3 separate regions of the Homo sapiens genome follow, and regions 1 and 3 are each linked to region 2. Evidence: fine-mapped expression QTL. A gene starts in region 2. Each other region holds a variant in brackets. All regions are shown on one strand. Distances are between the middles of the regions.

Region 1 (8,000 bases), 150 kb after region 2:
AAAACAGAGCTAGGAAATGGCCCAAACAGGCTGACTCTGAGTTCACACTCTTCATCAGCAGCTTTTACTGCTGTGGGCAAGGTATGTACTGTTGTCCCATATTACACAAGTGGTTGCGATTTCACCCCTCAGGAGCAAATATCTGGAGAGCCATGTGATTGGTGCAATTTAGCAGTGCTGCTGGCATCTAGTGGAGAGGCCAGGGATATTGCTGAACAGCCTGCAATGCTCAGGACAACCCCACAAGGGACCATCTGGCCCCAATGTCAATAGTGCCCCTGCTGAGACACCCATTACAGACCAAGAAACTAAACTCAGTAGGTTAACTTACTTGCCCTAAGCAACCCATTTTTCAGGGTCAGAACCAAAGCATGAGCTCCAAGAATGTTCTGCTGCCACCGAACACCTGCCTCCCCAAAGGCTTTGTTCCCGCAGGCTCCCCAACCTGCCTGGATCTCCAGGGCTATCCTCAGATAGCATCTCTTCCCTGAGGCCTTCTGAGACCATCCTCAGTCTCTGAAGCATACAATGCCTGAAGCAACCTCACCTCCAGCCTCACCTCTAATCTCAGCCTAACCTTACCTGCATTCTCACCTCCATCCTCACCTCCAACCTCACCTCCATCCTTATTCCCAACCTCATCTCCAACCTCATCTCTAACCTCACTTCCAACCTCACCTTCATCCTCAACTCCAAACTCACCCCCATCCTCACCTCTAATCTTACCTCCATCCTTACCTGCAAACTCACCTTCCTCACCTCTATCCTCACCTCCATCTTTACCTCTAAACTCACCTCCAATCCCACTTCCATTCTCATTTCTATCTTCACCTCTAATCTTACCTCCAATCTCACCTCCACGCTCACCTCCATCCTCACCTCCAATCTCACCTCCATCCTCACCTCCAACCTTACCTCCAATCTCACCTCCATCCTCACCTCCAATCTCACCTCCAGTCTCACCTCCATCCTCACCTCCACTCTCGCCTCCACCCTTACCTCCACCCTCACCTCCAATCTCACCTCCAATCTCACCTCCATCCTCACCTCCAGTCTCACCTCCACCCTCACCTCCAATCTCACCTCCATCCTCACCTCCAACCTTACTGCCAGTCTCACCCCCATCCTCACGTCCACCCTTACCTCCATCCTCACCTTCACCCTCATCTCCACCCTCAATCTCCATCCTCACCTTCACCCTCATCTCCACCCTCACCTCCATCCTCACCTCCAATCTCATCTCCAATCTCACCTCCAACCTCACCTCCAATCTCACCTCCAACCTTACCTCCAATCTCACCTCCATCCTCACCTCCAATCTCATCTCCACTCTTACCTCCACCCTCACCTCCAATCTCACCTTCATCCTCACCTCCAATCTCACCTCCATCCTCACCTCCACTCTTACCTCCATCCTCACCTCCAATCTCACCTCCACCCTCACCTTCATCCTCACCTCCAATTGCACTTCCACCCTCACCTCTATCTTCACTTTTAATTTCCCTCCAACCTCACCTTCAATCTCACCTCCATCCTCACTTCTGAACTCACCTCCAGCCAGTCTTTGTTGATCCGACTGAGGAGGAAGATCACATCTCCAGCTTTGAAATTCAGCTCCAGTTTGCTGTTTCCAGTGAAGTCAAATAGAGCCTGAGGAGAAGCGTGCAGTAAGGAGGGAAGGAGAGAACACTCACTGAGTTCCTATAGAAGTGCCTTACATACTTTAGTCTCCCATTTTACAGATGTAGAAACTGAGGCTTGGGGAGAATAAGCGACTTCTCTGAGGCCACCCCATTTTTTAGTGGAGGAGCTGGGAATTGAACCCAGGTCTCCCTGACTCCAGGATGGGTGCTCCTTCCAAACCTGGTGGGGGTGAGCACACAGGGAAGGGTTCGAACTCTCTGGGCTGAGCACCCACCCTGGTCCCCAGGCTTCATCGTGGGCTGGGCCTTGTCTGAGTCATCTCTGCAGCTTCCATGCCTAAGGCAGGGCTGACTCAGAGGAGGCCCAGGTAAACTGTCCGGATGAGCGTAGGGATGGAAGCATTCTCCTCTGGCTCCGCACGCTGGTCACATGCCCTCCCCTTAGCTGGGCTCGGGGGACCCCCAGTGGCAGAGGCTGAGGCTGTAACCCCTTCCTTCCTCCTGGTGCCCAGCACTGTCCCAGGCACACAGCAGCACCCAGCAGGAGAGGCCCAGTGGCTGGCAGGTGGGCCAAGGCAGATGCCCACAGTGTGAGAGCCTGGCCAGCGTGGGGGCGGGGGTTACCTCTGCTCTCGGAGCTGCCATGCGGTCAACGCTGTTGCCCTGTGGGGACACGCTCTTGCTGTGGAGAGAGAAGAGGGGCTTGTTAGCCCTGTGATTCTCTCAGGGCCCAGCTTCCTGCTCCTGTGTCCAGAGGAGCCCCTTGCAAGGAGCAGGGAAGGCAGAGGAGACAGAAGATGCTGAAATGTGGCTGCAATTGCTCCTCTGGGCGGGCACACTTGTCCCCAAATCCTCACAACCTCTTTGGAGGTGGGATTGTTCTCCCTTCTTTATGGACCAGGAAGCCAGGCTCAGAAAGCAGGTGGGGAAGGGGATACACGCTCATTCGGTGCCTTTCACTTGCCAAAGTGTTCAGATGTGTTTGTTCCTCTGCTCCCTACAACCAAGCTCTGATGTAAATGTGACTGTTTCTAATTTTTCAGCTGAGGGAAACTGAAGGTTGGAGAGGTGAAGTGCCTTGCTCTGGGGCCTGCGGCTGCCACATGGCACAGCTGGAATTAAGACACACCTGCCTGTGTGCACAGGGGAGATGCCAGGCATGGAGAGGACCCTTGGAGACATTGGTGGGAGGAAGCAGAGGGAGGAGCTGGTGGGGAGCTCAGGAGCTCCGTCCTGCTTTTCCCAGAATTCTTAGTAGCAGCAACCTGGGCTTTGGAAGCCCAGCAGTCTACGAGTGGCTTGAATTTTTGGTGGGAAGGATGGGCTTTTTGGAATAAGGGAGGAACAGTGTGCTCTGGAGGCCAGCATGATACAACTAGAGCCATAGCTGGCCCCATGGAGCTCCAACACACCAGGGAGAAGGCATTCCCAGAGATGCTCAGAGAATGTTTGTGGATGGGGCAGCTTTTCCCTCCTCTCTGCCCCCAATTCTTTCCAGGCACCCAGAGCTTCTGGGCTATCCCCAGTAGTTGCTGTGGCACCAAACTCTCTGGAGTCAATATCCCAGTCCTCGTCTTCCAATCCTTATTATCACATTGAAAGGCACACACCCTCTGTCCCTCCAAGCCTGAACATGACTTTCTAAACCCATCTAATAAATCAAATCATCCTGGAGTGTCCAGGGATATGGCTGATCTGTATTTTCCTTCTCTCCTTTCAGGGAAAAGAGATGCTTTTCCAGCAGGGACCCAGGGCTCTGGCCATGTGGAAGCCCAGGGGCTGGTCACTTACACTTTCCGGGTGCGCGGGCGGAGCCGGCGGAGTGCCTGGGGCACCTGCTCTGAGTCATAGGGCGACTGGTAAAAGAAGATCCGGACGTCCTCATCCATCAGCACCCAGACCGGCAGGCTGAGCAGGCTCTGTGTGGGTGAGACAGCAGAACCGGTGGGGTAGTCAGCAGAAAGATCTGGACACCCCAGCCTAGATGTCCCGTCCCCGAGCCCTGACATCAGCCCTCCTCTCTTTACTAATGCATGATGCCTGATAACAGAAA[T/C]GCGTTGTTTAAAAGAATAAGAAAACTCAGCATGCTGAAGGTAACACTTCACAAGCTCTGCTCCTGGGTCCAAGGTCAGGAGAGGGACCAGGGGCTTGAGAAGAGTCCATTTGGAAAAGACTTAAAGTTCTCCAGAAACAGCAGTAATGGTGATGACAACTAACATGACCCGGCGGTGACTTTACCAGGTGGGTATCACATGCGCGCCCTTGCTCCATCTCATGACATCCCTTGAGTTAGGATCAGAGAGGTGAAGGGATATGCTCAAGGCCACAAAGCCTAGCAAGGGACAGAGCTGGGGCACCCAGAGCCATCTGCCACTAAAGGCTACCCAAAGCTTAAGGTGAGACAACAGTTGGCGGGGGTGGGGGGCTCCCAAAATAACCCAAATTAACAACAGTTGGTGGCATTATAGCCTACAAAATGCTTCCTGATACTTTATCTCATATCATAGTTGAGGAAACTGATGCTTGGAGAGGGAAAGTACCTGGCCCAGAGGAGCCGAGCTAAGTGACAGGGCCCGGACTTGAGCCCTAGTGTCCTTGTTTCATCCAAGCTGGTTACACCCACCACGATGCAAAGACTTTGAAGCTGTGAGGACGCGAGCACCCAGAGCCTGGCGGGGTCATCTCACCAAACTCCAAGCGCACAGGTCTGGGGACACTGAGGGTTGGCTTTGGGTGCTGAGGCTCCAGAGGCACCCAGAGCCCTGCAGAGGATCCCATGGGGGCAGCAGGATGAGGTGGGGTCGGGGAACTTTGTCCGAGAGGAACTGGGGATGCAGAGCCCGGAAAAGGCTGTCATATGGGGACAGCCTGGGAGGTGTTTAAGGAGCCAGGGGCTCCTGGGATCGAATCCCAGCTCTGCCTGTCACCAGCTGGGTGGCTTTGGGCAAACCTGGCTCCAGATGGTCATTAATAAAATGGGGACAATAATAGCCTCTCCCTCGTGGGATTGTGTGAGAATTAAATGAGTAAATACATGCAGAATCCTTAGAACAACACCAGGCATATACCAGGTGCCCATCAAAGTTAGATGTCATCATTGTTACTGTGATTTTCATTACAACGAGGCACAGTGGGTAAGAGCTCAAACCCTGGAGTCACAGAGATGTGAATTCAAATCTCATCCCACCTACCTAACTGCTCTGTCACACTTAACTCACAAGTTATTGAGGGGATTAAATAAGATTATTCATTTATCAATAAACGTGTATCAAGAGTCTCCTGGTTGCCAGTCAAAGCTCTTCACGCAGTTCCAGGCAGTTGTCATTATCATGTGATTCACATTCTTCATGAGGGCGGGGTGAGACCAGTGGGTAGGACTTACAGAGAGTTGGGCTTTTCTCATAGCTGCCCAACAATGGGACAGGCAGCCTGGGTCAGGGCGGAGTGGTAGTGAGCTCCCCATCTCTGAGGGTATGCAAGCACAGGATGGGGTGGCCATGGCAGAGATTCCTGCCCTGAATGATCTCTGGCTTCCAGGAACCCAATTGGACACAAAGAGGCAGAGATGGATCCTCTGGGCTGCTGGTTGCTAAGACCAGGTGTGGAATGAGGAGCCCCAGTTCCCCAGCCTCGCCTCCTGCCTTCTCTTCCTCCTTCCCTCCCTCCCTCCCTTCACAGCCCACTCCCCTATTCTAGCCCAGGGGGAGAAGGGTGGAGCCTCAGCCACCCTGAAGGAGCAGCTGGAGCCCACCCAGCTCCCCTCCCTCCCTCTTCCCTGCTCAGAGCCCAGGATTCCTGCAGCTACCTGCTCTCTCCTCCTTCCTCCCACCTCCTCTGCCCTCCATCTGCTCCTTCCCTCCATCAGGAGTCAAGATCTCTCACATTCTGGAAGCAGGTTCACAGTTTACAAAGCACTTTCTCATCCTGTTCTCGACAGATCCCAACTTCACTCCTGTGATACTAGAGGGCACTGCCCCATTTCACAAGTGTGAAAACCAAGGCCTAGAGAGGATGGGCAACTCACCCCAAATCACCCAGCCAGTCAGTGTCAGAGTCAAGACTAAAGGATCCTAGCCCAGCGCTCTCCAGCTGTGAGGATGCCGCTGGGCTGGGAGGAGGGCTTCGCTTGCCAGCTTCCTGAGGTCACTATCAGGTCTCTAGCGACGGTGCACTCACTGCCACCTCATGAGGAACACTGCCCCTTTCCTGGATGGCTGTGGCTGGTGGAAGTCCTTTCCTGACCACCTTGGCCTCTGCCTTTAAGATGCTCCTTCCTCTACGCTCCCATCTCATAGAGATGCAGAGTTTGCAAGTCGGAGAATACACAAGGGCCCCCAGCCAAGACCCATGAGTGTAGCTAAAATCCAGCCCATGTTCACGTAAGGGAGTGAGTTGTCCCAGAGGAGGCCTACTCTAGTTTGCACAAAGATGCTATATGAGCAACCTGCGGCCTGCTTGGCCACACCCCCATGATGGAGGCACACATATGTCTCCGTGTGATCTTATGATCCACCTGTTGGCATTCCCATAGGACAGTGGGTACCTTGGGGGCAGACACTGGATGGAATTCACCTTTGTATTTTAACTCCTGGCATAGACATTCACCTGTGGGGCTTGGAGCATTAAATGAAGACTTGTCAATTCCTAGTGTGGCTCTTTTACCTTCTCCGTTGCTCCTGCTCCTATCTCTGGAACCCTAAGGACGCATCCTGTTTTACTCCCCAGACCAGGCCTTTAGGGATTGAAGATGGGGCCATCAGAGCCAGAGAGCCAGCCCCAGTTCCCAAAGCCATACCCAGGGATGGTACGTGGGCTCCCCCACCAATACTGCATGCCCTTCCACGTGCCAAGGTGGCAAGGCCCACTGGTACCTTCATGTAGGCGTTGAGGGCAGGTATCCGCATCTCGGCGATCTCCTGTTTCACACCCACGTAGACTTTGGCTGAGAAGAGACAAAGAGCTGTCCTAGGAGCCTGGCCCAACATGGCCCCGGGGCTCAGGGCTGCCCCTACAGGCCAGGAACCCTGGCCAGAGCCCCTTCCCGATGGCTCAGCATTCTTCCCTGTTATCTTTTCACAGCACTGAAGTGGCCACTCTGGCACCATCCAACTTTCATCCTCTCAGTTGTGCTATCACCAGCTGATATTTTTCTTGTCTTACTTTTTTATTTACTGCCTGTTCATCCAAGCGCACACACACACACACACACACACACACACACACGACTCTTAGTTCTAAGAGAGCAGGATTTTCACCTGCTTGGCTCACAGCTGTACCCCCATCACCCAGGACAGTGGCAACACCGGCTGCACATTCAAGCTACCCAAGGAGCTTGTAAATATCTCACTGTGTAGCACTTGCCCCAGAGCAATTAAATCAGAATCTCCGGGGGCAGGACTCAGGAACCAGGATTCTTTCCATCTCTCAAGGCACGTCCACATACCACCAAAGTTAAGAACCATGGGTCTAGAATCATGCCCAGATGAATGAGCATTTGTTAAGTGGATGAATGAACAATTCCTCAAGCTCAAGGCAGATGTTCTGGAGGAAAAGGAAATATGACGGGCTACCAAGAGACAAATGTCCCCTCCAGGTGCCTTCATGTGGGCGCACTGGTGGAACCATTCACCAAGAGAACCCCTACGAGGAAGCAAGTCTGAAACCTGCCTGGCTCCTGGTGTCCAGGAGATGGACAGAGGTGATGGCGGCGGCGGTAGGAGGGTCTGGGCTAGAGCTAGACATTGGGAGTTAGGAGCAAAAACGTGACAATTAAGTCCCAGACATGGGTCAGTTTGCCAGGGTGAGTGTTTGGAATGAGAAGACAAGGCAGGGGAGAGAGGATGTCTGCTCAGAGGATCCCCACCTTCCAAGGAGCAGCAGAGAAGGTTGATTCTGTAACAGAGAAGCTGAAGGAGTCTCTAGTAAGCTAGGAAGGGGATTGGGAGACACTGGTGCCTCAGGAGGTTGGAGAAAGCTTAACAGAGGAAGGAGTGGGGGTGTGAAGATGAGGCTTGGCACTGGCCATGGAAGCCAGAATTGATGGGTCATGGCCCACCTCACCGAGAGGAATTTCAGTGGAGTAGTCAGAGCTAAACCAAGCTGAGGAGTTAAGGAGAGGATGGCCATGCCAAGGTGAGACAGTGCGTGAATTTGATGCCAAAGGAAGAAGAAAGAGAACTTTGGGGGCCCTGGGGGCACGGAGGCTCAGGGAGGCTTGTAAGAATGCTGTTTCATGGCTCAGGATTGTTTAAAGACAGAAGAGGGTTGAGGCTGTGGAGACGCTTAGCAGAGGGAGTTGGTATATCAAGAGGAAGATGAATATACAAGGAAAAGGAGGGGTAGATTGTCAGGAGAGAG
Region 2 (8,259 bases):
AGGCTGGACTTCCCCTGCCCCAGGTGCCATGATGACCAGGGCCTAATGAGTTCTAGGGTGACACCCTGTGCCCACCCCCACAGTCTGGCCGCAGCTGGCTTTTAGGAACCTACTTCACCCATGCGGTCAGGCCTTGTGCCGGACACCGAGGCACTCTTGCCTTTGCCAAGCCCTGGGGGGAAACGTCAGGCTGCAGGCAAGAGAGAGTGAAATTGAGGATAGTTTAGAATTCAGTGTTGAGCACAGAGGGCCCCTATGTTTGCCTGGGGTGGCAGCAGAAGAGGTGGGAAGGCTTCCTGGAGTAGGAGGAAGTCCAGACTAATCTGACTTTTCCAGGGGCCCAGGAAGCCTCAGCACGGTCTTTAGGGTAGGGAGGCTGCCAAGGGGTGTTTGGCTAAGGGGTGATCCCCATTATCTGCGTTACAGCACAGCTAGGGGGCGCTGTGCTGGCAGATGCTGCAGGTTCCTTCCTGAGGAACCCTATTGTGGGAACCACAGCAGCCCCTGTGCACCCCCAAACACTGTCCCCTATTCTTGAGGATCCTTGTTTCCCTCACCCAATCATCCATTTACAGTAGAAAGAGCCCTGGTTTAGGAGCCAGAGAGCCCCCCAAATCAATGTAAACCCCACTCCACTGCTTAACTGGTTGTGTGATGTGGGTGTGTAGGGTCTCTGGGTGGTTTCTGTTCCTTATAATGGAGCTTCTCACCTCCACCTCTTAGAGCCAAGATTAAACAATAAATGTAGAGGGGCAACCACCATGCATTACATCTGGCTGGTTTTAATAATCATTAAAAACGGTTTAGGTCGGGCGTGGTGGCTCACACCTGCAATCCCAGCACTTCGGGAGGCCAAGGCGGGCGGATAACGAGGTCAAGAGTTCAAGACCAGCCTGACTAACATGGTGAAACCTCATCTCTACTAAAAATACAAAAATTAGCTGGGCATGGTGGCATGAGCCTGTAGTCCCAGCTACCCGGGAGGCTGAGGCAGGAGAATCGCTTGAACCTGGGAGGCAGAGGTTACAGTGAGCCGAGATCGCGCCACTGCACTCCAGCCTGGGCAACAGAGTGAGACTCCATCTCAAAATAATAATAATAATAATAATATTGCATTATTTCTTCCATTACTCTCATTGGTGGCCCTGGAACTGCCAGCAGCAAATCTAAAATCTTAGAATTTCAGGGCTTGGTGGGACTTCAGAGATCTGAGGTCACCCTGCCCCAGTCTCCCTGCTTGATTGGCACTTCTCACAAAGGTCTGTGGGCCATAAAGGAGGGTGTGAAGGCAGGCTGTGGGTGTCAGGGAGGGGTAGAAACCAGGTGCCTGTGTGATTCAGAAGCCGGGATCACTGTAGGTGAGGGTGCCCTGGGAGTGGAGGACCCCAGGACGTAACCGCCCCAGGCTCATGTCAGAAGGATACACAGCTGCACTGAAGCAAGCGTGAGCCGCAGGCTGGATCCAGGGTACCCCTTGAGGAGCAGAGCTTGGGAGCTCCTCTTGGACCTCCCCAGCCTGGTCCCTCCTGCCCACCCCCTCCCCCAACCACCAGACACTAGGCTTTGAGGATTGCTGTGAGCATTTTAGAACAAAACCTTTTTTTAAAAAGAGGGATGAGGCCAGGGATGGTGGCTCATGCCTGTAATCTCAGCACTTTGGGAGGCTGAGATGGGCAGATCACTTGAGCCCAGGAGTTCAAGACCAGCCTGGACAACATGGTGAAACCCCATCTCTACCAAAAATTTAAAAATTAGCCGGGAATGGTGGCACATGCCTGTGGTCCCACCTACTTGGGAGGCTAAGGTGGGAGGATCGCTTGAGCCTGGGAGGCGGAGGTTGCAGTGAGCTGAGATGGCGCCACTGCACTCCAGTCTGGGCCACAGAACCACAGCCTGTCTCAAAAAACAAAACAAAACAAAAGGTCAGGGTTGGGAAACAGGGAAAGCTTCCAGGCTGGCCTCTGCAAAAGCTAGGGAGGGGCAATGGTGTCCCCCAGTTTGCAAGAGCCCATGGCGAGCTTTTCAGGAATTTTGCCAACTGGTTGTTAAATACAGCTATTATTAAAAATTGAATTACATCAACTTATGATTAAACGGGCTAAGTTCAAAACAGGCAATTTTTTAAAAAGCATGAACCTTCAGGGAAGAGCCAGGTAAACAAAGGCAGCTGGTACCACGTGGGCTTCAGACCAGGGATCAGGCCCGGCCTCAACTCTGGGTGTGTCCTCCAGCAACTCGCTCTGCCGCTCTCTCCTGTCTTAGTAAGTTTCTGGCCTACTCCTCAGGGTTATTGTGGGAATTAAGTCACACCACGGGAGTACCCAGCAAAGTGCCACACCAAGCAGGGCTGGACAATGTTAGTTCCTTTCACTCACTAACAAGTTATTGGCTAGTGTCTCTTCCTGGGGCCTCTGGGTCAGCGGGGTCTCGTCTCCCTGTCCTCCTCTCTCTCCCCCGCCCTCTCTGGTGCCACCAGGTCACCCACTTCCACCCAAGGCTCCCCACCCGCCACTCGCCACGACCCCACCCGGCAGGCCGCCCCAAGCGGACAGTCACCCTTAGTGCCAACGTAGCGGCGCGCCTTCTCTCCTAGACTAAGCCCCCTCTTCCGCCCAGGTCCCGCGCGGGAGCCCCGCGCCGAGCACCCCCAAAGAGCCACTCCCTCCCCCTCCAGAAAGGCAAGCCGCCACGCCGCGGCAGTTACCCGGGTCTCGGACTCCCGGCTTCCTGGCTCCGCCATGGCCCCCGCGGCGCGGCGCCCCCTCCCCGCGCCCGCAGCTGTCCCCTCCTCCCGCCACCAACCTGCAGCGGACCAAAGGGAGGAGACTCCGGCACAGCCCACCGCCGCGGCCACTCGGAGCCGCTGCTGCCCGCGCCTTCCACTGGCCGGGCCGTGGGGGTACGCCCGCTCCGCCCAGCCCAGGCCCGCGCGGCCCCCGCGCCACCCGGCGTCCCCCTCAGACCCCCGCGGGTCCCGGAGGCCCCGCGCGCGAGGTTGGCAGGTGCCGGGCGCGAAGCGGCCGCGCGGGGGAGGCGCGGGATGGCGGCGGGCGGCGCAGGGTCCCCCTCTGGCGGTGGCGCGATGGTGCGCGCCGCCTGGGGAGCTGCGGCCGGGGGTTTGAACCGGCCAACTTCTCCAGCCGGCCGGGGCGAGCGCCAGCGCGGCGTCCGGGGCGAGTGAGTGCGGGGCGGGGGCAGCGGCCGGGCGCCTGGGCCGCCGGTCGGGCCACCTGCTGCCCGGGGAAGGATAGCGTTGCGAGAGTGGGACGGGGTGCCCCGGGAACCCCTGATCCACCTAGGGCAGAGGGCAGCGAGCTACGGGCCGGACTCGGGCACTCTGGAGGCGGGCGAGCTCGGGCTGCCTGGGGAGGCCGCAGGCGATGGCGTGTGCGCGGCTCGCGGAGCTTCCTAGCCGTGCGCCCACCCCCTCTGCCTTGGAAGGAAAGGGGATTCTAAGCCCAAGATGCCATCGCCCCCCATCCCGGGCATGCTTTCATTGCTCTTTCCTGGCGGGATCGAGTACTGTAACTTCTAGGAGCCAGATCCCCGCCCCAGGAAGCGCCCCTACTTGGAGTCCTCGGAAACTCTTGCCCCACCCGCTTCTGCGCTGGGCCCCCGGGCCGGCTGGGAGGGGCGGGGCCGGCTTTCCAGAGGGAATCTGCAAACTTATCCCGCTGCACGCCCCAGCCTCGCTGGCTTGCTGTAAACAAGGAACCCGGGGGAGTGCGGAGGGAGAAAGAGCTTCTCCCAGGCCTCACCCTACTGCACACACCGACTTCCTTCCTCACGCCTGTCTCTCTTTCCTGGTTCCCACCCGTGCCAGGTGACACGCAGAGCTGAAGCCATGGTTCATCAGGTGCTCTACCGGGCGCTGGTCTCCACCAAGTGGCTGGCGGAGTCCATCAGGACTGGCAAGCTGGGGCCCGGCCTGCGGGTGCTGGACGCGTCCTGGTACTCACCAGGCACCCGAGAGGCCCGCAAGGAGTACCTCGAGCGCCACGTACCCGGCGCCTCTTTCTTTGACATAGAAGAGTGCCGGGACACGGCGTCGCCCTACGAGATGATGCTGCCCAGCGAGGCTGGCTTCGCCGAGTATGTGGGCCGCCTGGGCATCAGCAACCACACGCACGTGGTGGTGTATGATGGTGAACACCTGGGCAGCTTCTATGCTCCCCGGGTCTGGTGGATGTTCCGTGTGTTTGGCCACCGCACCGTATCAGTGCTCAATGGTGGCTTCCGGAACTGGCTGAAGGAGGGCCACCCGGTGACATCCGAGCCCTCACGCCCAGAACCGGCCGTCTTCAAAGCCACACTGGACCGCTCCCTGCTCAAGACCTACGAGCAGGTGCTGGAGAACCTTGAATCTAAGAGGTTCCAGCTGGTGGATTCAAGGTCTCAAGGGCGGTTCCTGGGCACCGAGCCGGAGCCGGATGCAGTAGGTAGGTGTCCCAGTGCTGGGTGGTCCCTGGGGAGTATTGCCCCATGGAAGGATAGGGAGTAAGGATGACTGGGACCCTCTCCAGGGTCCGTCCCATGCCTTCAATCCTCCCATGTAGGCCTCAGTCTTTCCATCGATAAAACCAGAAAGTGGAGACAAACCTAAAGGCTTTTTCAGCTTGGATGCACAAGGACCCAAGAATGTGTCCTCATAGCCATGTGCTAAGAAGCCACCTAGCATCTGTGTGAGCAGAAGTCACTGGTGACATGTCCACCACCTCCACTCCCAGGCACCAGCTGCCCCACATGTACTAGGATATACCTAAGGGTGTCATGCCCCTGAGCCAGCGTTTGCATTGCTGTACAGAAACCTCCCACGGACACATCCAGCTTCTCCAGGCCTCTCTCGTCCCGCAGAAACCCTTATAGACATCAACAGTGTCCCTCCCCGCAGGATCCCCCTCTCCCCAAATCTAGCTCTCCTGGGGCCCCTGCCTGCTGTTTGCAAAGGTTCCATAACCTTTCCAGGCAGCTGCAGCCCGTCGGCAGAGTTGTAACAGCAGCTGCCATTTCATGCCAGACACTTGGCACCGCATTATCTCAGCGAACAAAGCTCAATGCCCCTGTTTTGGCAGCGGGGGGTGGGGGGACTGAGATGCCAGGACATAAAGTGGTGGAAGGCAGGATTCGAATCCAATGCTGCCTTGTTTCAAACCAGGGCTATAAACCAGGACGCACCCAATGCTGCCCTACCCCTACTTCCCAGGGCCAGGAGGGAGTCCCCTCTGCTAGTTGCCCCAGGAAGGCGACTCAGAAGTTCCCCTCCTGTGGAAGGGAAGGCCAGGTGGATTGGATACTGCTTGAGGGTTGGGGAGAGCCTCAGGAGAGGAAATGCTGAGTTCTAGAACCTCCTAGCCAGACAGAACCTCGGAGGTCTTCCCTTTTCTAGAGGCAGGACTGCCGTCTCGCTGCCATCACTCCTGCTGAGTGCCCTCCAGTCCCTGCCTGGCCATTTCCAGGAGCAGGGCCCTCTCTTGTCTCTGGGCACCTCCTTGGTGGCTCTTTCCTCAGTCAGAGCTCCTTCTCTACAGAATCTAACTCGTGTGCAACATTTTGCCTGACTTGTTGAAAAACATCTCTTCCTGTCTGTACCTCCTACAGAGAGAATGCTGGGAAAACTGTTCTGCACACTCTTAGAGCTGGAGGGCCTGAACGGTGACCTCACCTGACAGAGGGGAGACTGAGGTGCACAGAGGCAGGGGCCAAGGCCGCATAGCTAGTTAGTGACAGAGCCAGGACAGCAGGGTCTCTGCCCTTTCCAGCGCAGCTTTTTCCAGGCCCCATATTTTTCTTGCCTGCTTGCTCTCTGAAGGTCTGGAGTTGAAGATTCAAGTTCATTTGGCACCTCCCAGAGAATCCTGGCTGGGAACGCCTGCAGCCCTCTCCTGGCCTTGGTTCAAGACGCCTCTTCTCCTTGGGATTTAAGCTGTCATGGGGGAGGATCAGTGGAATTGGTTCTCTTGCTGCTTCCCAGCCTGCCCTGAAGCAACCTAAGAAATAAGTGGAAGGGACAGCTTGGAGGTGCCAGGCCCAATGTCCTCACCCATTTTACAGATGAGGAAACTGAGGCTCAGAGGAGGAGAATGGCCTGCAGTGGGTAATGCCTCCTGAAGGCCCGGGATGCTGAAGTTCCTCCTCTGTAATTGTGTTCACACCTCCTTCAGTTTCCCTCAGGAGCATCAGGGAACATGGATTCTCATTTCAGCTCAGCCACTCCTCCTTGGAGTGACCTCAGTCCAGTTGCTTGGCCTCTCTGGGTTTCCTTATCATAAAATGAGAAGAGTCACGCCAGCCCTACCCACATGAGTATGCATTTGTTTAAATGTAGCAGTGGCGGCCGGGCGTGGTGGCTCACGCCTGTAATCCCAGCACCTTGGGAGACCAAGGTGGGCGGATCATGAGCTCGGGAGTTCGAGACCAGCCTGACCAACATGGTGAAACCCCGTCGCTACTAAAATGAAAAAAAAATTAGCCAGGCGTTGGTGGTACGTGCCTGTAATCCTAGCTACTTGGGAGGCTGAGGCAGGAGAATCGCTTGAACCCGGGAGGTGGAGGTTGCAGTGAGCCAAGATCGCGCCACTGCACTCCAGCCTGGGCAACAGAACAAGACTCTGTCTCAAAAAAAAAAAAAAAAAAAAAAAAAAGTAGCAGTGGCTGGAAAGGGATTTCAAGAAGGGTAAGGAACGATACAAATCCTGGAGGGTGTGGCACTTCCCCCCCAACCCCCTCCTCCAAGAGGCTTTGCTGGCCTCCCATACAAGATATTTTGGGGACACAAAGGCACATGAGGCTCTGCCAAGTTTATGGTTCCCAGCGTGGTGTGGGATCAGGGAGGCACCCTGTAGGTTCAGCGGTCCAGATGTAACACACAGGGGCATGGGGGTGGCAGACCTGGGGGTCAGGCATTGGCCCTGATCATCTCTGGAAGGAATGACCCTAAATGGAGCGAGAAGCAGAGCTTAGACACCTGGCGGCCACTTCCTGCTCACCTTAGGCAAGCGCCTTCCTCTTTGGCTGTAGTTTTGTGCCTCCACAAGCTCTTAGTCCTGGAGTCAGCCAGATCTGAGGTTCCATCCAGGTGTGATACTGATGCTTAGCCTCAGGCTAGTGCCTTCACCGCTAACTGTTGTTCGTGAAAGGAGCGCTGCTCACCTGAGAGGAGGGCTGGAGGAAGTGAGAGAGGCAGAGTAGGAGTTTATCCAGCCCAGTTTCTTTATCGACTTAATTTTCTTTGCCTCCCTTCTTGGAGGGAGTGAGGGTGAAGAAGGGAGGAGGGTATCGACCCGCTAATGAGCACTTTTATTTACAGAACGCTTTTTATATAGTCTCTTCTGGACACCTACAGCAGCCCTGCAAGGGGAGGCAGGCAGGGGTAGGTAGGCTGGGTCCCACTTTGTGGGTGGGGACAAGGAAGGGGCTTCTCTGTTAAGACAAAGTGGCAGAGACTTGACCCCAGGTCGGCAGGCTTCAAGTTGGGGCTGTTTCCCAAGGCTACTGCTGTGGGTGGGGTGAGCTGTAAGCAAGCCCAGGGGCTGAGGGAAAGGTCACGGCTCCATGGTGTGGCTCCCGGGCTGCTGTATGGGACTGAAAATCCACTCTGCCTATCTCTCCCTCCCAGGGCTGGGAGCTTGGCTGAGGGAGGAGGGAAGGTGCAGGGCTGCCTCTTCCTGGCTAGGGTTAAGGGGTTGCCTTCTGGGGCTGCCTGCTCTGGATTCCTTAGTAAAAGGAGAAAGCGCCAGACAGCTTTTCCTGGCCTTAAAAATCCACACCTACCAGTGGCCTGAGGGATGTTAACTCTAGTAGTTGAGTACAAGAGGTCATCTCATCCATTCCCCAGCCTCAGTCTCCTTTTCCAGGGAGGCTCAGGGTGGTCAAAGAACACAGGCGTTGGGGGCAGACCAATCAGACTTACCTTTGCTGTGTGTCCTGAGGCAAGCGACATCACCTCTCTGAGCCTGGGCTCCCCCAGCAATGCTGAGAGAATAATCTCCCCTGCTTTGTGAGGATTGAGGAGGATAAAATTCTTGAGAGCACCTGCTGTCAAGTGCCTGGTGCCGCAGGTTATGGGAATGGGGGCATGCCTGCTGGGGGCAGGGAGAGCCAGAAGCCTTCAGCTAGACTTGGGAAGAGAAGCATGGGAGCCTCTGCTTTCTGGCCCAACGTGCCTTTCCACCAACTGGCTGTTCTTTTTGTTTGTTTGTTTGTTTTTTGAGACGGAGTCTCGCTCTGTCACCCAGGCTGGAGTGCAGTGGTGCGATCTTG
Region 3 (8,259 bases), 220 kb before region 2:
ATCACAGAAGCTGGAGAAATAGGCCCGACCAGATCTACCTTCCCAAGTCTCTCCGAAGGATTGGGTGAAGGTATCCCAGTAGGGCCAGCTCTATGCGTGTGGCCACCTATCCAATTGCACAGGGCCCCATGCTCAGAAGGGTCCTGCACCTTGTTTAATACTCTGATGTCTACATCTTGAAATTCTTAATCATTTTTGAGCATGGGCCCTGTACTTCCATTTTGCACTGGGTCTTGCAAGTTCTGTGGTGAATCCTGCCTCACACCCTCATATGGCTTCAGGCACAAAGTTTCTCAGCCCCAGACGAGACCCCAGAGCGGGATCCTGCTACTGCCAATGCCTGTGCCCCTGTGAAGGGAGGGTAAAATAGTCACACTGGGCCCTTGACATTGGAGGGGGAAGAGGGAGAGAAGGTGGGTTGGGAAAAACAGGCAGCCCCAAATCTCTGGCACCTGAGATTAAGGTGGAGAGAGCTTCTGGGCTGAGGATGGTAGGTTTGCTGGGGGTTGGGGAGGCCCCTGCTGCAGATACAAGATCAGATAAGCCTGAGAGCTGGCTCCCCATGCTGCCAGCCATGAGGGGTTAACAGCAAAGGGATGGACCTGAACCTTCGGAACTGACACCTTCCTGAGCAGCCAATCAGTTGCCAGGACTCGTGGGGCTGCACCGTGATTGGCTCTTGCCGCCTGCTCTGTTGTATAGACCCTATATTGGAGCCGGCAGGGCCCTGTGAGTTCTTTGCATCAAATCCCCCGTTTCGCAGATGGGGAGCCTGAGTCTGCTCTGTGGATGGCCCCGTGCTAGGTGTTGGGGATACAGAAACATGGCAGGAAGACAGTGCCCTCGTGTGCCTGTGGCATAGAGGGGCGCCCCCTTACACCTCACCTCGTTAGAACCAAGCTCGACGGAAGCCCTGGTGAGCTTTTAAAACTGAAAGTTAGGCTGGGCGCCGTGGCTCATGCCTGTAATCCCAGCACTTTGGGAGGCTGAGGCAGGCAGATCGCTTGAGCCCATGAGTTCGAGACCAGCCTGGGCAACATGGAGCAGAAACCCCATCTCTACAAAAAATACAAAAATTAGCCGGGCATGGTGGTGCATGCCTGTAGTCCCAGCGACTCGGGAGACTGAGGTGGGAGGATCGCTTGAGCCTAGGAGGGTGCGGCTGCATTGAGCTGTGATTGTGCTACTGCACTCCAGCCTGGGCAACAAAGTGAGACCCTGTCTCAAAAAATAAAATAAAATAAAAAGAGCCTCCCAAAAAACAACTGAAAGTTAACCTGGCCTAAATCTCTCCTGTGGCTCCCTTCACACTTAAAACTCATCTTAATGCGCAAACCGTGAACAACAGCCCCCGTCTCCCCAGCCTCATTTACCACACCCCTTACCCACTTCACTCCAAGTACACAGACTGCCTTGATGATCTCTGCCTCCCCCGAACCTCTTCACTCCCCTTTATGACACCCAGAACCCTCCCTGCTTCCTGTCATTCAGTTCCCTGCTTAAACATCGCCTCCTTGACCCCCTGTCTACAGCAGCCCCCCGTCTCCAACCTGCCCTCTCCATCCCACCACCCTGCTTGGCTGTCTTCATAGGCCCCCCGACAGCCCGACTTCATCTTGCTGCTCCTTTGCTGCCACTCCTCCTCTTGGATGGAAGCTCCCTGAGGACGGGGCCCTTATCTGCCTCACTCCCTGCCATCGCGCCAGTTTCTAGAACAGAGCTGAGCCCATTCCTGTTGCTCCGTCATGACTGCCTCCCCGACCCCGGGGAGGAAGGCAGGGCTCAGCTCTGCATGGAAGAATGTGTGCTGCTAATTGAGGTTGAATCATTTGGCACTTAATTTTCACTTTCATTTGAAATCCTCTCTTCGGTAAACTGGCGAATCCAGCCTGGGATTCCAGTGGACAGGATGACATCAGCCTCCCTAGCTGTGTGCGCCAGGCCCCACCAGGTTCTGCCTGGCCTCTCGGCAGCCCCATCCCTGCTCCTGCCGCTGTGTGTGTGGGTGCCTCATGATGTCCAGTGGCTCAAGCCTCTGCCTTAGCTCAGGCACCCCTTCTGTTGGGTATTCTGTTCCCTCCTGCTCCACCTCTCCCTGCCCCGTGACACCTCCAGCTGCCTTCATCTTTCAACCAATAGCACGGTAAGGGCCTCCCCTCCTGGCTGATGTGCCAGTTTCCCCCTCTGTTCCCCTCTGGCCCCTCCCTAAGACTTCTCCAAGAGGGTCCCTCCCTCCCTCCCTCCTTCCCTCCCTCCCTTCCTCCCTCCCTTCCTCCCTTCCTTCCTTCCTTCCTGACGGAGTCTCGCTGTGTCACCAGGCTGGAGTGCAGTGGTGCGATCTCGGCTCACTGCAACCTCTGCCTCCCGGGTTCAAGCGATTCTGCTGCCTCAGCCTCCCAAGTAGCTGGGACTACAGGCATGCACCACCACACCCAGCTAAGTTTTGTATTTTTGGTAGAGACAGGGTTTCACCATGTTGGCCAGGATGGTCTCGATCTCTTGACCTGGTGATCCACCTGCCTCAGCCTCCCAAAGTGCTGGGATTACAGGCGTGAGCCACCGTGCCCAGCTGGGACCTTTTATAAATGCAAATCTGATCTCATCACCTCTGCCTGGCTTGGCCCCTTGCTGGTTCCCCATTGCCCTGAGAACCAAGACCTGACTGGTCCGTGCCCCTATGACATCAATCCTTTCTCACCCCCAAGTCACTAGCCATGCGTGCCCTGTGGTCTCTGGGTTCCTTGAATGCACCATCCTTCCTCCGTGGGGGTGGGCTTCGGTGGTGGTCAGGTGATACCTGGGTGCTGGGGCCCCTTCCACCTGCCCCATTCCCCTCCTCCACTCCATTCTAGGGCCAGGCCTCAGAGTTCTACAGGCACTAGATGAAAACATGGTCTCTGCTCTCTCCAACTCCATTTCCAGCCATGAAATAGCAGCGATGCTTACCATGTGGGCCTTTCTGAATTGGGTAACAGGATCTAGCCTTGCTCTGCCACCCACTGGCTGGGAGATCTTGGGCAAGTCCCTTCCTCTCTGTAAGCCTCAATTTCTTCATCCGGAAAATGGGGTGAGGGTTGCCCATGGTGGTCTGTGCATAAGGTTCCTCTCTGGTCCTGGCTGCCTGTGGGTCTCTTAAGTAAGGGGGACCCTCAGGGGTGTCACACCATTGACACATTCCTGCACCTGTCCCTCTGGTCCTCTGGGGAGGGGCCCTGTGGCAGGGGCATTTGGGGACATGGAAAATGAGACTGCTTAGCTTCTCAGCATCTCCCAGTGGGGTGGCTTGAACATCCTCTGTTTTTTTGGATTCTCCTAATGGCTCCAAGAAATAGGTATTTTCCCCTCCACATTAAAGAGATTGAGGCTCAGAGAAGTTAGGTCACTCACCCAGGGTCACACAGCCAGGATGTCCTGGCTTCCCAAGGAACTCTGTGTTCCCGCCCAACAAGAAAGGTCCTTGACCTCTTCAGGCCTCAGTTTCCTCATCTGTCTAATGGGGGTAACTTAAGATCCTTTTGTCTTGGATCACATGAGACTTCAAGACCTAACATACAAAGACCCTCAGCCCCCTGCCTGGCCTCAGAGAAGGTGGCTGTTGCTTCTCAAGGTCCCAGCTCTTTCCCCATCACCGTGGCCCTGAGATTCCAGGGATGACCCAGAGGAGACAGGTGAATCTTGTGGGGCTTCTTGGCACTAGCACTGTGGCTGGACATTAGAGGAGAGAGTGTCCAAGCATTTCCCAAAAGTGTGTTTCTGGTCAAAACTGGAAAAACAACACAGGTGTGGCTTTTCCCATCATGCCTCACTGTGTCTCCCTGGACAGCGCCTTCTTCCTGAAATCCCACAGCAGTGTAGGTGGTACCCAGAGTAGGTGCACGCCAGCACCTGCTGTGCACCAGACCGCGGGCTGGCCCCAGGGTGCAGCGGCAAACAAATGAGGCTTAGTGCCTGCCACCTGGGATGCTGAGTTCCCCAAGGAGTGCTGGTTTAGGTGGGGTGGTAGCCCCGACATGGCTGGAAGTCAGGAAAGGCTTCTTGGAGGAGGTGACATTGAGCAGGGGCTGGAGGGATGAGTAAAAGTCAGCCAGCCTGGCAGTGGGGAGGAAGAGAAGGGAGAGAGGAAGGAGAGTGGGAAGTCAGGGGCCACTGTTTGCAGGCACT[T/C]TCCAGACAGGCGGGAACAGGGCCGTTTGAGGAACTGAGAGGTAACCAGGAATTCTGTCCAGGGCTGGACAGGCAAAGTGTATTAAAAAGGCTGGGCTGCCCACTTTTTGGGGGTGTGGGGGACTCCTCTCAGGAGAGGTGTCTTTTGTGTTACTCTGAAGTGTTAGCGCTTCTGCAGCCTAACATTGAGTAGCGTTCTCTGAGGACTTCCTGGAGGAGGTGGTTTAATTCCCTTCCACCTGCATTCACTGGGTGACAGGCCTGAGACTGTGGAGAATAAGCAGGCATCGGCCTGGCCCACACAGAACCCACAGCCCTTGAAGGGGTGGAGACTCACCAAGTGCCTGCTCGTGGTCCAGGCAAAGTAGTCACCTGAGAGAGGGAACCATGGGCTCTTTACAGGTAGAGGACGACGAAGCTCCGCCAGAGAGGAGGACTTGTCTGGGCAGGGTTTTGAAGCATGAATAGAAGTTGGGAGTGAAATGGGGCTGGAAGCGTATTCCAGAGGGAGATACAGACAGGATCAAAGGCTTGGAGGGCTGGGCAGCCTGGAGGGTGTGGGGGCCAGAGACCAGGTTGGTGAGAACATATGGACAGCTAAGGTGGGAAGGACATTCTGGGCAGGGGCTTTGTGTGGACCAGCACAGGGAGGTGGGCAGTGTGAGCCTTTCCCGGGAAACGGCTTGGCTGGTGTGCGAGGGGAGGAGTAGGAGGAGAAGTCAGAGGAGCCGGAGGTCTCAGTGGACCAGGTCAGGGCCTGTGTGGGGGACCACAGCGGGAAAAGTGACAGTGATTCCCTAACCCTCAGGGGCAGGCGGTGAGGGCATTCCCGGAGGCACAGCTGTGGCCTGGGGCAGTGAGCACTGGTCGTGGTCACTGGTTTCTGGTTTCTTACCTAGTTGGGTCACTCACTGGCTGTGTGGCCTTGGGCAAGTCACTGCATCTCTCTGAGCCAAGTTTTCCCTTCCACAGCGTGGGTAGCCAGCACCTTCCTCGCGGGGATGTGTGTAGCAAGAACTGGCTTGCAAAACCTCCCCTATTCCGAGCTTGGAGCCCTGGGATGGCCCTCCCAGCATTCGTTGGGCTTCCCCGTCTCTGATATTTGTCAGGCCCCTCACCCCGTGTCTGGCCTTCCGCCAGCTGTGGGGGCAGGATCAGGCATGTACTCCTTGGTGGCCCCAGCGCTGGCTCTGCACCCGATGCATAGTAGGTGCCTAGCAAGTGCATCTGGAGGCTCGTTCGATGGCCCTGCAGGGCTCTCTGGGTCTGGCGGGAGACATTGGGAGTCAAGGTCAGTGCCTCACACCATCTCCTCGGCAGCATGTGTCTTTCTACCGTTTGCCGTGGCCCTTCCCATGGCCAGTGACTAACAGCTTTCACGCACACTCTGGGGTGGGCTGAAAGGCCCCGGAAGCAGCCCTCTTTCCCTGGAAGATGGGAGATGAATGACAGCACCCTAGCTTCCTGCCTTCTCTGGGGACGCCCTGAGCACGGTCCGTTCTGTCTCCCAGGTGGCCCCAGCAGGACTGAGAGCAGCAGCAGTCCACAGCCATGACAACTCAACCACCTGCCCTGTGTCAGCTGCTGTCCCCTCCTTTATTCCTCCCCACTCCCCTTCTGCAGCATCCTGGAGTCACTTCCCGAATAAACCCCTCACATCACCTCCTTGTCTCAGGGTTTGCTTCTGGGGGGACCCAGCCTGAGACGGGATGAACATTCATTCGACAAAATATTGCGGCTGGGCGCAGTGGCTCACGCCTGTAATCCTAGCACTTTGAGAGGCCGAGGCGGGCGGATCACTTAAGTTCAGGGGTTCGAGACCAGCCTGGTCAACATGGTGAAACCCTGTTTCTACTAAAAATACAAAAATTAGCTGGGCGTGGTGGTGCATGCCTGTAATCCCAGCTACTTGGGAGGCCGAGGCAGGAGAATCACTTGAACCCAGGGGGCAGAGTTTGCAGTGGGCCGAGATGGTGCCACTGCACTCCAGCCTGGGCGACAGAGCGTGATTCCATTTCAAAAAACAAACAAACAAACAAAAAACAACAAAAAGCAAACATTGAGTGGCAGCATAGGGAGAGAGGTAAGTTTATTCTCATCAAGACTGGGAGGAAAAGTTACACAGCCTCAATTACCTTTCCAAAGGACAGGTACGGGTAGGAAAAGGATTAAGAGACAATCTTTTTTTCTTCTTGTTAACTTGTATTACATTTTTAAAAAATATAATGAATCAGTAATGAAACAAATAAAGAAACCCAATTGCAAATGCTGTGTGACTTTGGGCCAGTCGCAGACTGTCTCTAGGTCTCAGCCTCCGAGGAATGACATGGAGCTGGACCACAATTCCCAGGTTCTGGGGTTTGAGATTGACCTTACCTCCGCCTTGCCTGCTCCCCACAGGTTTGACAACTATTCAGCCAATGTGATGGTGGACAGCAAGCCAGTGAACCTGGGGCTGTGGGACACTGCTGGGCAGGAGGACTACGACCGTCTCCGGCCGCTCTCCTATCCACAGACGGTGTGCTGCTCCCACCTGCCTTGCAGTCCTGACCTTTGCTGTCTCTGTTCCCTCTGCTTGGGATGCCCTTCCAGCCAGCTCAGCCTGGGAAACCCTACCTCTCCCCTTAAGGCCCAGCTCAGGGAGTCTGCCTGCCTTGCATGTCCCAGGCAGAGAAGGGCTTCCTCTTGCACTCCCTCAGCCCTGCATTGGTTCCCGGTCCTCAATGTGCCCATCTTCCCACCCCATTGCCTCCTGGGCTCTGGCACCCCCTGTTTCCAGTGGTGGGGCAGGTGGATTCTGCACAGGGCCCCAGGAGGCAGCCCAGCATGGTGAGCCCTGGGAGTGCTGGGGGAGGGGAGAGGTGGAGGATGCCTGCAGGTGGCTGCTGGGTCCTCGCCCTTCCTCCAGGGTATGCAGGGAGGCGGCTAAGGCCGGTAATCAGATGGTGGATAGTATATGGATTGGAGTATGGACTCTAGAATCCCAGATCCTCCCCTCACCAGAGTGCACGTTGGCAAACTCTTTAACCTCTGGAAGCCTCACTTTCCCTGTCTGAGGAATGGGGCTACCAGCAGTGCTTGCTGCAGAGTGACATGTGAGGATAACCACTTCGCAGAGGCCCTGGCCTTTAGTGAGCGTCCTAACAAACAGCAGCCTCGTGGTAGAGGCGAGAAGGGTATCTCTGCTCTGCCCAGATCCTAAGTCCCCAGCATTCCCTGGGGTGTTCCACCCTCAGGGAGCCCCAAGCTCCACCTCTCGGTGGCTGCCATGGTGGGACACCTCTGGGCCCTCCTCACTAGCAACCTCGCTTGCTCTGTCCCCAGGACGTCTTCCTCATCTGCTTCTCCCTCGTCAGCCCAGCCTCTTATGAGAACGTCCGCGCCAAGGTGAGCTGGACAGGGTGGGCCTTGGGGGCTCTGGGGCAGGTAACCCTGAGGGACAGAGGGAGGAACTGGTGACTCTAGGCTGGTCCCTGGGGCAGCAGAGGTCGCATACAGAGAGGGTCCCCAGTGCCAACCAGGGCTGGCAGAGGGACTTGAGGGGGTAAGATTCAGAGGACCTGGGGTGGGGGGTGCTGCGATAGTTAGCTATACCCCCACTTTCCATGGCTGCATTCTCCTCCTCCCCACACAACCTCATGTCCGCCTCCGATTGTCACATAACCTCATGTTTGCTTCTTATGTCTGCACAAAACCTCGCCTCCTCCTTTCCTACAATCATGCGCCCCCTCCTTCCTGCACAACGTCGTGGCCTCCCCTCCCTGTGCCACCTCACGTCTCTCTCTCCTCACCGTCGTGCCCACCTCTGATCTTCTGGCAACTTGCTGCCTCTCCTCTCCCTACACCCTCACACTCCCTCTGATCCCCGCACAGCCTCGCGCCCCCTCTTGACCCATACAACCTTGTGTCCCCCCACCCACCTGCCCAGTGGTTCCCAGAAGTGCGGCACCACTGCCCCAGCACACCCATCATCCTGGTGGGCACCAAGCTGGACCTGCGGGACGACAAGGACACCATCGAGAAACTGAAGGAGAAGAAGCTGGCTCCCATCACCTACCCGCAGGGCCTGGCACTGGCCAAGGAGATTGGTATGGGCCT

Direction of the effects. Alleles are on the strand shown, and positions count from the first base shown. SD is a standard deviation of normalised expression in the study named. Not every link is listed here.
For the expression in monocytes of the gene that starts at base 3,130 in region 2, allele T in region 3 goes with a higher level than allele C (large effect, 1.3 SD a copy in Fairfax 2014).

The links. PIP is the estimated chance that this variant, and not a neighbour inherited with it, causes the effect.
Region 1: its variant is fine-mapped to the expression of TST in whole blood (TOPMed, PIP above 0.99).
Region 3: its variant is fine-mapped to the expression of TST in monocytes (Fairfax 2014, PIP 0.95).

Annotation. Positions count from the first base shown.
Region 1 is chr22:36,865,977-36,873,976 of GRCh38, reverse strand. It overlaps NCF4 (neutrophil cytosolic factor 4), which reads right to left. Exons shown (of 10, transcript NM_000631.5): 4 at 6,515-6,585; 5 at 3,435-3,562; 6 at 2,268-2,325; 7 at 1,552-1,650. It overlaps NCF4-AS1 (NCF4 antisense RNA 1), which reads left to right and starts at 3,534. Exons shown (of 2, transcript NR_147197.1): 1 at 3,534-3,884. RefSeq lists an enhancer at 1,646-2,184. The variant T/C (reference allele first, on the strand shown) is at 3,697.
Region 2 is chr22:37,014,318-37,022,576 of GRCh38, reverse strand. TST (thiosulfate sulfurtransferase) reads left to right here and starts at 3,130. Exons shown (of 3, transcript NM_003312.6): 1 at 3,130-3,177; 2 at 3,824-4,439. The coding sequence starts at 3,845. It overlaps MPST (mercaptopyruvate sulfurtransferase), which reads right to left and starts at 2,835. Exons shown (of 3, transcript NM_021126.8): 1 at 2,705-2,835. The coding sequence starts at 2,740. RefSeq lists silencers at 2,519-2,838, 2,849-2,968, 2,999-3,388, 3,549-3,608 and enhancers at 3,082-3,583, 3,612-4,587.
Region 3 is chr22:37,231,221-37,239,479 of GRCh38, reverse strand. It overlaps RAC2 (Rac family small GTPase 2), which reads left to right. Exons shown (of 7, transcript NM_002872.5): 3 at 6,562-6,679; 4 at 7,486-7,548; 5 at 8,090-8,249. Among named protein-coding and RNA genes, the nearest start is that of RAC2, 8.9 kb to the left of the region's middle. RefSeq lists enhancers at 1,090-1,768, 1,769-2,447, 4,728-5,227, 5,228-5,729, 8,217-8,259. The variant T/C (reference allele first, on the strand shown) is at 4,162.